2 separate regions of the Homo sapiens genome follow, and region 1 is linked to region 2. A link means that fine-mapping ties the variant in region 2 to the expression of a gene that starts in the linked region. Tissue or cell type: thyroid. Region 2 holds a variant in brackets; the other region holds the start of a gene. All regions are shown on one strand. Distances are between the middles of the regions.

Region 1 (6,884 bases), 260 kb before region 2:
AACCCCAAAGCACAAAACAAAATCCTGTCTAGAAAAGGACAGGCAGTTGGTTTCATTATCCCCAAGATATGACCACAGGTAGGAACTCTTCCTTTTCTGAGTTAGCTACTAGTAAAAATAGATATGCATAAAGTTTCTATTATGTTTCCTCAAGATAGGAATTGAACATGGGTAAAGATTACATAACTCTGTAGCAATTCAAAATTATAACCATAGTGAGCCTCTTAAAGATCTTCATTACTCGTTATATTCAAGTGCTTGTGAAAATATTAGCCTGGACCACTTAAATTGACATGTCAATTACAGCAGTGTCTCTTTCAATTGCCTTCACAGAGAGAAGCATTTTTCACTTTAGGGGGTCAGACAATGCTGTTAAGTTCTGAAAGAATGAAAATCTGAATATTTGAAATGTTAGAAAAATTCTCCATGACATGAGCAGTAATTCATAAGTTATATAGTATGTTCCTGGGGCAGGGTGCGGGTGGAGGGTATAGTGGGAATAGATAAATTATTTGCCACATTTTAGTTTAAATTTCAAAAATATCTGATAGGTCAAATTCTCTATGGCTATATTTTAAGAAATTTTAAATATATTTCTTATCTATACTGTTGTAAGTGAAGGAAGAGATCTCAACTAATCTTGAAAATGAGGAAAAATTGTGGAGTGGTTGTTTGGGTGATCTCAGAATGGCTCTGCTTGGCACCACTGGTTTAACTTTAGAGAGTAAATACTCTTTAGATGTCTGGAGAACAAATATCCTAAGCACGTATCAGTCACACACATTTTCAGAATCAATCAGTCATCAAAGAGGGATTAATACTCTGTTCTTCTCAACAGAAAAACACAAAACGACTCTTCTTGGCCTCAGCTTTCTGGAAATGTGTCTGCAGGAAGCCAGTGCCTAAAATATTGTGTCAAAAATGCTCATATGTGTTCATTCACATGAAGACAACCACTAAAGTGCTCCTGGGACACATTAACATCCATGAGAGGAATTCTTCTGCTGAAAATACACCATCTAGTGGTGCCACCTGCTCGGCTTCTGAAAAATCTGTCTCTTGACAATCTATTCCAGTTCCAGCCTCTTAACCAACCAGAAGTGTCTAAATAAGATGGAAAACTAGGCCAGGCACAGTGGCTCACGCCTGTAATTCCAGCACTTTGGGAGGCCCAGGTGGGTGGATCACTTGAGGTCAGGAGTTCGAGACCAGCCTGGCCAACCATGGCGAGACCCCCATCTCTACTAAAAATATAAAAAGTAGCCGTGCTTTGGTGGCACATGCCTGTAATACCGGCTACTCGGGAGGTTGAGGCAGGAGAATCTCTTGAATCTGGGAGGTGAAGGTTGCAGTGAGCTGAGATCACATCACTGCACTCCAGCCTGGGCAACAGAATTAGACCCTGTCTCAAAAACAAACAAAAAAGATGGGGAAAAAAAAAACTCACCATTACCATTATCTGAACCTGGCTTAGGTGAGAATGTTAGTAACCATAGTGACCATAAAACTGCCAATGCCTCCATTTAAAATGTTTAAACCTCTCTGCCCTCACACATTGTGGTGTGCCCACCTGGGGTGAGTCATTGAAGGAAGAGGATTTATTTAGCCCATTATCTCAGCATGCCAGTTGAGTGGCATGGCCTCGTGAGCCAGCTATCTTCCTCTGCAGGCTGGGGCCCTCAGACAGCTCTCTGCACTAATTTTCAGAGCCAATCAGAAGGGATCCGTGTGGCCATTTGAGCCTGTTCCTAAAGCCCAAAGAGGGCTTTACCAGTGGACATTTGGTGATCTCACTGTACTAAATGCTACCTGTGACCCTGCATGGAGGGTGTTTCTTTTATCTTTCAAATAATTAGTTTGTACAGATAAAGCCTAAAGAAATATCTGGCTTTTGGCCGTTTTTGTTTTCTTGTATCTTTTTTTTTTCTTTTTTCTTTTTCTCTTTTGGCTCGGGCCATCAAAAGCCCACAAAGGTTTGGTCCTTCTGTGCATCTCCATGAGGGTTTATCAACCTGATCCCATTCACTATGGTTCCCACTCACAGATGGTTTTCACAATTCTTATTTGCATAACAGTACCAGCTCTTTTAGGGTCCAAGGCATTGGATGAACCTTTAGTTGCTTCTCTTCCTACAGTGTTCCTTTAAGATTTTAAAGGTCAAGATGACTGATTATAATCCAAACATGTTTCCTTACTTTGCCTTGAGGCTAATTCTGTTTCTTGAAGCTAGGTGAGTATGAAGCAGCTGGTTCACAAATGAACCCTTGAATTCCAAAGCCTACAGCAGCCCCTAAAAATGCAGATCTCAGACCACACTGCTGGCAGCTGCTGTGCTCAAGTTGAAGACTAAAGGTCAGTAGTTGAGGTTGGGACACACATTAATAGTTTGACGAATGAGAAACATGCTAATGATTATCTCTCTGGGTAAATTTAGATACAGTTGATTTTCAAGGAACTATGGCTATACAGAATCCTTAAACTTCTGCATATGTTATATTTAAGGTTCTATGGAAAACTTTCTTTTTTACTCAGATTCAATTAAACTGAACAAGTGCTGAAATGTGAAAAATAAGAGGTGTGGCAATCTATAGCTGTCCAGATGCTGTGTGTGACAGGGGGAAGGGGGGTACCTTGGATAGCAGCAAACCCAAGGGATGCTGGGCCTCTGAACTCCCCCTCTCCCTACATGCATGGATTTTTATCTGAATAAAATCCATTTGAAAATGATCTCAGAGGGAGACCTGGATGTCAAAGTTGTAAAGAAATCCCACGAAGAAAGAGTGAAGGATATATGTGGAGGGTAGACACATTGACTGCACCATGTTGAAGGGGTTACAGATTCCTTGAGGGTGTAAAATCGGACAGCCAGCACAACCCAGCTGTCTCCTCTCTTGGCTATATTCATAAGTCATTGTCCTGCCAAGATAGGGGTAAGAGGGAGGATGACTCCCACTGTCCATCCTCCACTGCCTCTTCCAGGAAGCATGGAAGCTCTGGGCAGAGAATTCTGCATTGCACATGAATAAAGAGGAGCCAAAGGCAAGATGGAAACAAATTGTCAAGTTACGTGTCATCTTAATTCTTAATATTTAATATCAGCATAAATCAGTAGCAGCTCAGCTCCAATGTACTGTTTTAGCCTTCAGGGGCCCAATTTGAATTCAAAGAAGTATATGCTATACCATGAAAGATTCAGTTTAACTGATGTACTTCAGTCAGTTTTTGGTAGATCCTGGAAAGTCTTTGAAAACAGCTATAGTTTGGGAAGCTAACTAACTGCACAGGGACCCAAATATAGCTGGAAAATATGTGGCTCCCAAGCCAGAGGGACACTAATGCATTTCACAGTCTGCTAAGACAGTTGGGATCTGCTGAACCATCCACCAACCACCAACATTCTCCATATCTTCAAGGAAATTGGAAAATATAAGAAAAATTTGAATGAATAGTATAAAAAAATAAGAGAGGGACAAAATCTGAAAGAAAGTTTCTACCATTCTAGTCTGGCATCTACTTTTCATTGGTGTAAAACAGATACCAACAGCAGAGAAGAAAGCTCCCAGCCAGTGGCACATTCCCCTTGGGAAGAACCTTTTTTTAAAAAAAAAAAAATTAAGGTGGGTTCTCTGGTTCTTACGAATTTAAGAACTCTAGCTAAACATAATAAGGTCTGAGAGACAGGAGAACACCTATTTTCAAGGCTGCAAGAGCTGGATTATCACTTTCTAACATTTTTGCAATCAAAAAATTATCTTTTAAAGAAGTTTACTAATTTTCATGGGATGATCACAGATTAGCTGCAAGCAATTTGCTCATGAAAGGGCTTTTTATAACACATCATAGATTACCAATAAATGGGCTGAAATGACTTCATACTAAATGTAAAACAGATTACCTTTCCATCTGTAATTCAGTGTTCAAAAGAAACAAAATATTAGCAAGTTATTCATAATACATAATTCATTTTTATGTGAGCATTAGTAATTCTGGCCTACTTGTGGTCCGGATAAACCCATATTTATGATGTTGTAACTTAAAGTGTCTTTCACTCTGTTCATGGTGTTCTTTTTACATTAAAAAAAAAAATTAGAAGTAGGGAAGGCCATAGCTTCTCATTTTAAATGTGCTCATTCCTGGGGAGCTAAGCATATGAAAATTATAATCCAACAAACATCTGTTTCTAAACTACTGATGCTTTAGCATGAACTAGAAATATAAATTTTAATCTGATGACTGAAAGCATCCCTTTAACTGTTTTTTTTTTTTTTTTTTTTTTTTTTTTTTTTTTTTTTGAGTAGTCCAGTGGGATGACATCTGGAGGGGCTATGCTTTAGATTATTTATAGATGTGGGCAATAAGAGCTACATTTATGTTGTCAGTGCTGTTTGCCCTCGTTTAATTTCTCAAATGACCTAATTATATGTGTTCTCAATATGTCTTGGGAGGAAAATAATTGCTGATACTGTCAAAGGCAAAATGCTGAATATGTTTCAGTGCTTCTCACATTCCATGGCCTGATTATGGGCATCATTAAATTACACGTTACCATTCTTCCGGAACATCGCATTGAACATGTCCTAATGTTTCACAATGAGAAGTGAAGCACTTCCTCTTACTTAAAAAGAAAAATATTTGATTTTTACAGGATGCCTGACACTAATGCTTACTATTCTGCTATCTATGATGTCTTCACTTATGGATATATTTATTAACAAGTACTTATTAGCTATTTAACATTTCCTCTACTGAGTGTTATTAATTACAGATGCTGTATTAGTTTCCTAAGGCTGCTGTAACAAATTACCACAAACGTGGTGACTTAAAACAACAGAAATTTATTCTCTCACGGTTCTGGAGGCCAGAAGTTCAAAATACAGCTGGGACCAAAGGCATCTCTAAGGAAGGATACAGTCCTTGCCTCTTCCAGGGTTCTGGTGAGTGTCCCGGCATTCCTGGCTGGTGACCACATCACTCCAATCTCTGTGTCTGTGATCACATTGCCGCCACCTCCTCTTCTGTGTGTGTCTCTTTTGTGAGTCTTTCATAAGGACACTTGTTATTGGATTTAGGTCCCACTCAGATAATCCAATATGATGTCCCCTTTTCAAGATCCTTAAGTTAATAATATCTGCAAGGACCCTTTATCCAAATAAGGTCACAGTGACAGATTTGGGGGATTAAGATGTGGACAGATCTTTTTTGGAGTCACCACTCAACCCACTGCAGATGGCAAATTTTAAATGGCAATGGTTGGTAGCCTATAGGCAGATTTTTGATTTTTAAAATCTGCTATTTAAAGATAAGTTACACAGTTGTTTTCTTTTTCTCTAAAATACCTCAAATAAACACTGTACCTTTTTGGACGTAACCTCTTGCATCAGTGAGGTCCATGAGTTAAATGTGCTCATTTGCTTTAATACAACGGATTTTATTGCTGGTATATCTAATGGTGAAAATATGGATTTAATGTTGGTATTTGCACGCCACTAAAAGAACAAAAGAGCCTCCAAATCTCTCTTCTCCCCTCTTCTGACAAGGCTCTCCAGGTTCTTATGGGTGGTCCATGATAGTGAAAGACAGTGAAAAGAAAGATCTCAGAAGTATGAACTCATTTACTATATCCTCAAATATCAATCGAACCCCCACTTCGTGCCCTGTAATATTCTAGACATTGGAAGTAGAGACAGCTGACTTCCTAGGGGATGACTTATGTTGATATATAGGGCCTTGTGCTTGGAAGGTCCCCACCCTTGGCTCAGTGCTCTGTTGTTGTTATCTTAAAATTATTAATATTCATTTTGCACTGGGCCCCATGGATTATGTAGCAGATCTTGAAAAGAACAGTGGACAATATAGGAAAGCTTCCAGCTCTCAAGGACTTGTCAGGGTATCTGATGGTAGACAGCCAGCACCAGTGCCCCAGACATAAATATGTGATGCTGAGCCCTTTGGGGTCAAATCTAAGATAAGCCAGTAAAGAATGTAGTGTCACATTTGGATATACTGTAATGGTATCATGGACTGACTCACAGTTTCTGATTTTGTCTTCTATCAAAACTTTCTACTTATTAATATGAAGCTTCATTTCTAAATTTCAGAGCAGCATCTCCCAAGATACAATCAGAATTGTCTAACTAACTGTTTTCTTAAGAAAATCTTTCAGGGTTAATGACCATCATAAACCCTCTCTCTAACATAGACATTAGTTTCAGCATTTGGGAGGGGGAAAGGACCTTGGAATCATTGCCAATAAGAGCAATGTTTTTATAACAAAATATGTTTCAAATTCTATCTATCTTGGACATCTCTTTCAGAGAAGATAAGTTGTGTAATATTGATACTCTGAGAAAAGGCAATTCATTTATACCTCCTTCTAAAGAAGTGTTGTCTCAATATGTTCATCATAGTGGCATGCCGGATTATATGAATGAGATCTGGCTCCTTAAATCTTCAGGGCTTCCCAGCAATCTATTTTTAACATAGAACAAGCATATAAATATATATGTTTTTAATCCATATTACTCCTGAAAGGAATAAACTCAGAACTGAAGTTGTTGGTGGAAGTTTAATGCAGTTCAATTAAGGATTTGTATCCAAAAGAAGTTGTTGCTTGTACTTCCATTTCTGCATTAGTCACACTAGATATATAGTCACTTTTAACAGCATTGTGCCATTACCAGTGACTTTAATTACTGTTTGGTAATCTTATCTACTTACACCAATATTAATTAAGTCCATCTGGTGGGGGGAATGGGGGGTCATCTCAACATATGTTGATTGAAAAATGCAAACCATAATCTTTATAGTGGCTAATTTTCTCAGACCCTTCGTTCCTGAGGACAGAAGGAGGTGAACACACCATTAGTTCTAAAAATTAATTCTAA
Region 2 (7,986 bases):
GTGTCACAATGCCGAAGAAAGGCCAAGAAGAATGAAGGTGCCAAGCTGTGGCTCCTTTCCTGGGTGCTGTGAGACCAATCGCTACTGCAACAGGGGTTGTGGGTAGTGATCACTGGCTGGTTGTGTGTGATTCTGAGTCTTTTAATCCCTTCAGGCATGCAGATAAAAATTCCAATATTTCAAAGAAGGCCGTGAATATAAAAAAGAAAAAATTTGAGAATCTCCAGATAGGGGAGTTGAATTGTATTTTATAAGCAATGGGAAATCACTCATGGTTTTTTAACAGGAGAGTGACTTTATGGAAAAAACACAGCAGGAAGAATAATCTTGCAGTTAAATGCAAATTGGAATGAAAAGAGAAGAGAGTGTATAAGCAAGAATAAAACTTATTTCCATTCCTCTACAGTTTTAATTTTGAAGAGTAGAAAAAAGTATATAATTTTTAACTTTACAAAAATATTCCAATACATTGTCTGCTACCTACAAAAAAAAAGTAATGGAAGTAAAATCTAGAAATACTACTCCAAAAGAAAGTGTTTATGTAGCATTATTTCCTCTTCACATATGTTGCCTTTTTTTCAGCTTTGTAACATTTCAACTGTGTGGTTTTGGTCAAATTGATCAATCTCTGTAATCCTTGGTTTCGTGATCTGTAAAACGGAGAAAATGTGGTGTAATGCCACCTCATTGAGTCACTGTGAGGATTAAATGAAATAATGTATGTTAACTACCACTTCCTTTATAATATCCGAGGAGATTTTTATTTGGATCTCCCTAGCTTCGGACAAGAGAAATACTTCTTACAGTCTAAGAGTAACTTAGAATATGCCCCAAATATGAAGTTACAACCCAATTTTATGTTATGCTATGGAAATCCTAAAAGATATTTCTTAGAAAACCTGAAGTCTAGCATGAGAAAGATTGAAAATTTAAAGAGCAAAGTGATTGGAAACTCACTTATGAAGCCTATAACTTAAAATCTCATAATTAAATGAGCCAATATGGTTCTGGATGGCTCTGCTCAGATCTCAGTTTCAGACCACCTACCTTCAATGGGAAAATGGTATATGCCTGATATATTCTGTAAAATACCAACTTTATCTATGAGGAGGGAAGCTGTCACTGGTTACAAAAACAGACCATGGCTGGAGGTGTTGCAAGACAAAGAATCACACACTCTTTTTACACTTTCTCTGTGACCCCAAAATCAAAAACCCAGAGCCAATTTATCAGAAATTCACCCTAACTGAACACAGTGCCCATTTCTGCACAGACTACCTGTGGAGCAAGTTCAACAGCACTTGTATAGAGAACACCAGCACTTATTTGAAGCACTGGGGGTGCAAAAATGAAATAGAATGCATCCCTGCTCTTGAATGCTGGTGGGACATGGTATGCATGCTCTGTCAGAATTTATCATCTTCTCTCTCAACTCTGATTTCTTCACTGTGTTCCCATTTCTGTTTCTACACCATTACTCTGCACCAATCACTCAGGCCAGCAGAGCAGGGAGGTGATTTTCGATTCCTCCCATTCCTTTCCTGACTTCTTACAGATGCCAAGTTCTACCATTCTCCTTCCACAGTATCTCTAATATCTTTCTCTCCCTGCCATGTGAGAATATAGTGAGAAGGCAGCCTCTGCAAGCCGGAAAGAGGGCCCTCACTAGACACAGAGTTTGTTGGCACCTTGATCTTAGACTTCCCAGCCTCCAGAACTGTGAGAAATAAATGTCAATGTTTAAGCCACAGAATCTTTGGTATTTTGTGATAGCAGCCCAAGCTGACCAAGACAGTGATAGACGCAGGCATACAGCATAGCCTCCCAGGACAGAGGAGGGTGGAGAAGGGCCAAGCGTGAATCTGGAGGGACAAACTAAAGCCACCCAGTACAGACAGCTCTTAAGAGATAAGCAGAATTTGCAGTACAGCAGCAATCTATGTTTCACAAACTGCCACAGTAAATAATCTATCCTGTGTTATTGTTTTCTGTGGAATTCTCAAGCAGCAAGAGGGAATATTACCATGTAATCATTTCCCTTTATTTCAGTAATTTAAAGAGTGAAAACCTTGGAGCTTTTTTCTCCTTGAGAGACCAGAGCATATTTGTGGGTCCAATAACACCTTTGCAAAACAGAAGAAACATTAACTTTATCTTTATATTATCCAGGCAGAAGAATGCATTCTAATAAGCAATGAAGTGAAAAACCCTACTGTGATTGAATTTATTTTTCCATAGAAATGCAGGAAATAGTCATGAATGTTTTACTAAAATGCTTCCTAATCATAAGTGTATATCCGTGTCTTCACAAGTCATGTTTTTGAGCACTGCAACTCTCCAAGCCAGCAAAGAACTCTGTAAAATTGTCTTTAATCCCTCACAAATGACTCAGGAGTCCCACTGAGGCTTTATCACGTATTATTTAATAAATTCATGAATCTACAAACCAGAAGATGTGGAAAAACCATAGCAACCAGGAGCAAGATTGGAGAAGTTGGCCAGGGTTGAAGGACGCTAGGAGGCACATACAGCCTTCCTGAGCTCTGAAGCCCCTCCCTCCCGGCCCACCCCACATCACTTGACGTTGCCTTAGCCACACCTCTGCCTTCCGCAGACTCAGTACAGGAACTTGCAGCAGAATGGGCTTCAAGAGTTTAACTGCTCTAGTCACCTGCCTTCAGATAAATTATTAACACTTTATACATGAGGAAAATAAGACCCTAAGACTTTAAGTAGCTTGTCCAAAGTCACAGATTAATACATAGAAGAAGAATATGTAGGATGAACAAGCCTAGAATCTCATGTATGACATGAGGACTATAGTTAAGAAAATTATATTGTATTTTTGTTAATAAATAAATTTTAGCTTTTCTTGTTACAAAAAGAAGTAACTATGTGAGATGATAGACATGTTAATTTGCTTTATGACAGGACTATTTTACTATCTATATGTATCCCATAACATTGTGTTGTAAACCTCAAATATATACAATACAATTTATTAGAAACAATAAACAGAGAATGATAACTAAAGTCCTGATCTTCCTAGCACAATACTTTTACCAACTCCAATTTTTGCATGTTCTGGCTCTACAAATGAGATGAGGGAAAAGAGAACACAAATTCCCTATACATTTCTGATGCAGTAAACATAGCAATTGAAAATAGAATGCTGGAACTGTAATTCATGTGTAAAATTACACTCACTGATAAAAAATTTTTTCACATTACAGTAAATTTGCCCTTGAGAAAACGTGGTGAAATATTTCAGGTATTATTTTCTGTCAGCCTAGCCAACACGACCCAGGGTACTTTTATTCTTTCCAAGTCCTCATAATTGCTAGAGAATTTGTTCATTTCTTTAATGATAAATATTGTAGGAACACGAGAGCAGGTGTCCCTGAAATAACATTAATTAGGCAAACTAAAATCACATATGCATAAAGAACAAGAACAAAAGTTCTCTATTTAGAGCTAGTAAAAGCATGACTGGTATAAAGCTTACTGTCACGTTGTTGTCATTGTCACCATCATCATCCTTGTTATCATCTAATCGCAAGGCAATCTCACTAAAGACAGACAGAATTCTCATATTCTTTCACGGTCCCTAATGAGATTACCTTAACCCTATCCCTAGCTCTGCACATCCTGTGACATTAAATGATGCTTGTAAAGGACCATCTCTGCTAGATAATTTTGGTATTTTCATTCTTTTCTGAAAATCAGTACAGATTACCCAGGCTTTGCACCCCCAGAGGATCTGAGTCAGTGTTTTGGGATAGAGCCCAGCCATCGGTATGTTGTAAAAGCTCCCCAGGTGATTCTGATGAATCAAAACACAGAAGACTGGGCTCTGTCCCAGAATGACTGACTCAGAATCTCTGGGGCTCAAGGCCTGGGAGACATTCACTTCAAAAAACCTCCCCTGGGTGACTCAGATGCATATCAGAGAGTGAGAAATGCTCTCCTCAATTGACAGGCATAAATCTATCCACAACATCAGGAGGATACACCGGAGTTACAACCAATATCAAATGAATATTTGAATACAGACTCCAGCCATGGCCATAGCTAATCTCCCGTTGGCTTTCCAATTTGGATAAATGCTAAATTTGCTCATTAGGGTAGCTGTTGGCATATTTAAATATACCATGGAGACTGCAACTTTAGTGCATCTCTTGCATTTTCATATATTCACAAATCACCTTTATGAAGACTAGCTTCACAGAAAATAATTTTTTAAATGCACGTTAACAAGAACAGAAACCAAGCAACAGCCTCAATTTGAGAAAATGTTTAATTTTACCATAGGAATCTTTTTGTTCCCTCTCTTCACATGTTAAAATAAATCTGAGGCTATTTACAAAACCTTGTGCTGAATTAAGTGAAACACAAATGAAACAACCCTCATTATTAAAAGTCTATAAATTAAAATAATAACAAAGGCTGACCCCAAACTCCACCTAAGATGAGAGCAACCCGACATTTCAAGAAGAAACACTTTCCCAGAGAACAAGTCATGAAGCATGACATCTTAAAACTCCAGAGTACAAAATGTCAACACCAAAAGGACTGAGTTGGTAAAAATTGAGAAAGAGTGGGTACTGAGAAGTAAAATCTGTTTCAAACAAAACTAACTCCTGCAAGATTTTGC[A/G]CTTCACTGAATAACTACAGCACATTGGTGTGTTCATTTTTTTCTTTTTTCTCTACAGATTCATTCCTTCTACTTTGTACAAGCCCTAACAGTAAGCTATAAAAATGTCATAAATTATTACAGTGCAAATAGTGTAAAATCTTATGCTCACAAGGAGGTCCAAAGTGGTAATCATGCATTCCTTAGTTTGAAATACAAAGAAAAACATGCTTTTTGCTTACAAAGTAAAATGATGACAATTGCAAAACATCTCAGTAGAACTGGTACCTAATTTCTGTTGCCAGTGAAGGGAGGGGAGATATTAGGACAGGTGTTAGAAAGGACAATGGTATAACTAAACCGTCATTCACTTAATGGAAGTCCCAGTATGATGAAAGAACAATGTTATTTTTAGATCAAATCCTTCCTATCCAGCATGTCAGTATAAAAATTGCTTCTCAGAGAACCAAAATAGGCCGGGCACAGTGGCTCATGCCTGTAATCCTAACACTTTAGGAGGCCGAGGTAGGCGGATCACCTGAGGTCAGGAGTTCGAGACCAGCATGGCCAGCATGGCCAGCATGGCGAAACCCCATCTCTACTAAAACTACAAAAATTAACTAGGTATGGTGGTGCATGCCTGTAATCTCAGCTACTCAGGAGGCTGAGGCAGGAGAATTGCTTGAACCCAGAAGGCAGAGATTGCAGTGGGCCGAGATCGCACCACTGCACTCCAGCCTGGGTAACAGAGGGAGACTCTGTCTCAAAAACAAAACAAAACAAAACAAAAATAACCAAACTAGAATGGTTGAAGTATTAACAGACCAATACAGAAGTTGCTGTTTGCCACAGAAACATGAAAATAGAACCAGTGTTATTCACTGTGCCCATGGGGCAACCCGTGCTTGAAGAAAAGGGCCCCTCCCATCTCCTTCAGATCCTGTAATCATATTGTTCCTCCTCACCAGACACCAACTCATTTGGAAGGATACAGAGTCCAAGTAGGTCCTATAGTATGTCTCCAGTGAGTCCTTGCAGTTCACAAGCTGTGGTGAAGCCACATTAATACAGCTACTTCTCAACAATTGGAAGTCAGATAAAACAGTGGATGGGAAATATAATCAGAAGTCAGTCATAATGGAAAAATTTGCATAAATCAACAGTTTCTAACTCTCCCAACCCCCAAGACTTTCTCAACACTCCTAAAAAGCAACAAATGACTGATTTGCTTTTCACATCCTCTCCCTTCTTTTGCTCTTTCTCATTGTCAGCAGAACAATACGCAAAATGTGACTGACAAGAAAGAGAAAGAGGAGCAAAAGGACTCTATAACATTTCTGTCATGTAATTACTGAGGACTCAAGAGTTGGCTGGAGAGGAATGACCCCTGCCCAGTTTCTGCTGCTAGTAATAATTTGGAGTCCTGGAGGACAGGCCAAACTCAACATGCCTAAAATTTAATTTAGCACTGATCACCCACGAACACCTCTCTCCTTCCAGCCTCGCTAGTCTGTCAAAGTTGCCATGTTAAAACCTAAGTGTTACCCTTGGCTCCTTCTTATTCTGGCATCAAGCCATGTCTAGTCTCCAAATGATTTCAGCTCTTTCAGAGTTCTCAGAATGTTCCTTTCTTTTAATTTCCATTGTTTGGGCTGAGAGTTAAAGAATGCAGGAATTTTCTAAACAACACATTTGGGAAACATTCCAAGAAACAGAACCATCTGCATCAAGATGCAGGTTGTGAGAGGATGGCACACTAGGAACTACCGGTGACCTGGTATTATTGCAATCCAAAGTGGCAAGAAAGGAGGTGAGAAAGGCCTGTAGCAGGAAGGACCTTTGATTTCTCAATGAGAAGCTTGAATGTTTTCCAGCAGCCAGTGTTTTGCAGACTTCAGTAGTTTAACTAATGACTTACCTACATACCACCCATATTATTCTTATTTGCTTAATAGTTTTTCTCTGAACTCACTTATTGTTCCATATTAATCAACTTATTTAACATTGAAATTTTATTTTTTATTTTATTGATTGATTGATTGATTGATTTGAGATGGAGTCTCGCTGTCACCAGGCTGGAGTGCAGTGGCGCGATCTCAGCTCACTGCAACCTCCGACTCCCTGGTTCAAGTGATTCTCCTGCCTCAGCCTCCCGAGTAGCTGGGACTACAGGCATGCGCCATCACATCCAGCTAATTTTTGTATTTTTAGTAGAAACGGGGTTTCACCATGTTGACCAAGAGGGTCTCGATCTCCTAAGCTCGTGATCCGCCTGCCTCAGCCTCCCAAAGTGCTGGGATTACAGGTGTGAGCCACTGCGCCGGCCTGAAATTTTATTTTAACTCAAACATTTCCTTATGAAAACTTTGAAATATACACAATAGAGACAATAGTATAATTAATCTACATGTACTCAGCACAGCAAATATCAGCCCATGACCAATCTTGTTTCCTTTGTACTCCCCTAAGCACCACCGCTACCTCCACCTCCATCAGCACACACACAAGCACACCCTTCCTGAATTACTTTAAGCAGATCACAGACATTATATCTTTCCATCTATATATAATTTGTATCTGTAAAGGATAATGACTATAACGCCATCATCACACCTAAAAAAATTAATAACAATTCCTAAATATCATCTTACATCCAGAACATTAAAATTTTACATCACTGTCATATATTAAAAACTGAAATAATTTGCCACAAATTTTTAAAAGAAAATGTTATTAACATTATGGCATGATATGCTTGTAATTGGAACACTTAGCTTGAAGGCTCTTCTCCTTACTAAAAACTGAGATTAGAAAATGTTACACTGGTCTTCCACTTATACATCCTCATTGTCAGAAGGAGAAGGATTGAAAGGGAACTTAAAATGAAATAAATTTTTCACTGTGTAATTTAAAATTATTTAACACCATGTCTGAGTACCACCTAAATCTTGCATTTAACCAGGAATATCTGTCCCACACTTCAAGAGACACTGTTACAGGGAATCATCAAAGAATTTAGGGCTTGATGGAATTCCTAATTGCGAAGAATTTTTCTAGCAGCGAAAAGAGCAGAAGGGAGGTATGATGGAGAAACGGACAACCTGTATGTCCCACAACTTACTGAGCCACTTTCAAATTTCTTGAAAGTTTGTTTGGCTCAAATACTGTAGTTCTCCTAGTGCTCCAATAGGGGAGCATACAGACTCGCATGCCTTTGACCAAGGGTAGACCTCCTCCAATTGGAAAGACCACTTGCTTTGACCAATCTCACAGCTTCTGGGATAGGGACCACACGTGCGTATAGGAGAGGAAGGGGACTTAACCTAGCCAACCCGGCTGAATAGAACCTTGCT

Direction of the effects. Alleles are on the strand shown, and positions count from the first base shown. SD is a standard deviation of normalised expression in the study named.
As copies of G replace A in region 2, the expression in thyroid of the gene that starts at base 4,262 in region 1 goes up (large effect, 0.83 SD a copy in GTEx).

What was found. PIP is the estimated chance that this variant, and not a neighbour inherited with it, causes the effect.
Region 1: it holds the start of SLC35F4-AS1, and the variant in region 2 is fine-mapped to the expression of SLC35F4-AS1 in thyroid (GTEx, PIP above 0.99).

What each region holds. Positions count from the first base shown.
Region 1 is chr14:57,574,072-57,580,955 of GRCh38, forward strand. SLC35F4-AS1 (SLC35F4 antisense RNA 1) reads left to right here and starts at 4,262. Exons shown (of 2, transcript XR_007064193.1): 1 at 4,262-4,934. All of the region lies in intron 4 of SLC35F4 (solute carrier family 35 member F4), which reads right to left. LOC105370519 (a long non-coding RNA gene) reads left to right here. Exons shown (of 5, transcript XR_007064194.1): 4 at 1-1,175; 5 at 2,227-4,209.
Region 2 is chr14:57,829,631-57,837,616 of GRCh38, forward strand. All of the region lies in intron 1 of SLC35F4 (solute carrier family 35 member F4), which reads right to left. It also overlaps the pseudogene RN7SKP99. Among named protein-coding and RNA genes, the nearest start is that of SLC35F4, 32 kb to the right of the region's middle. The variant A/G (reference allele first, on the strand shown) is at 4,655.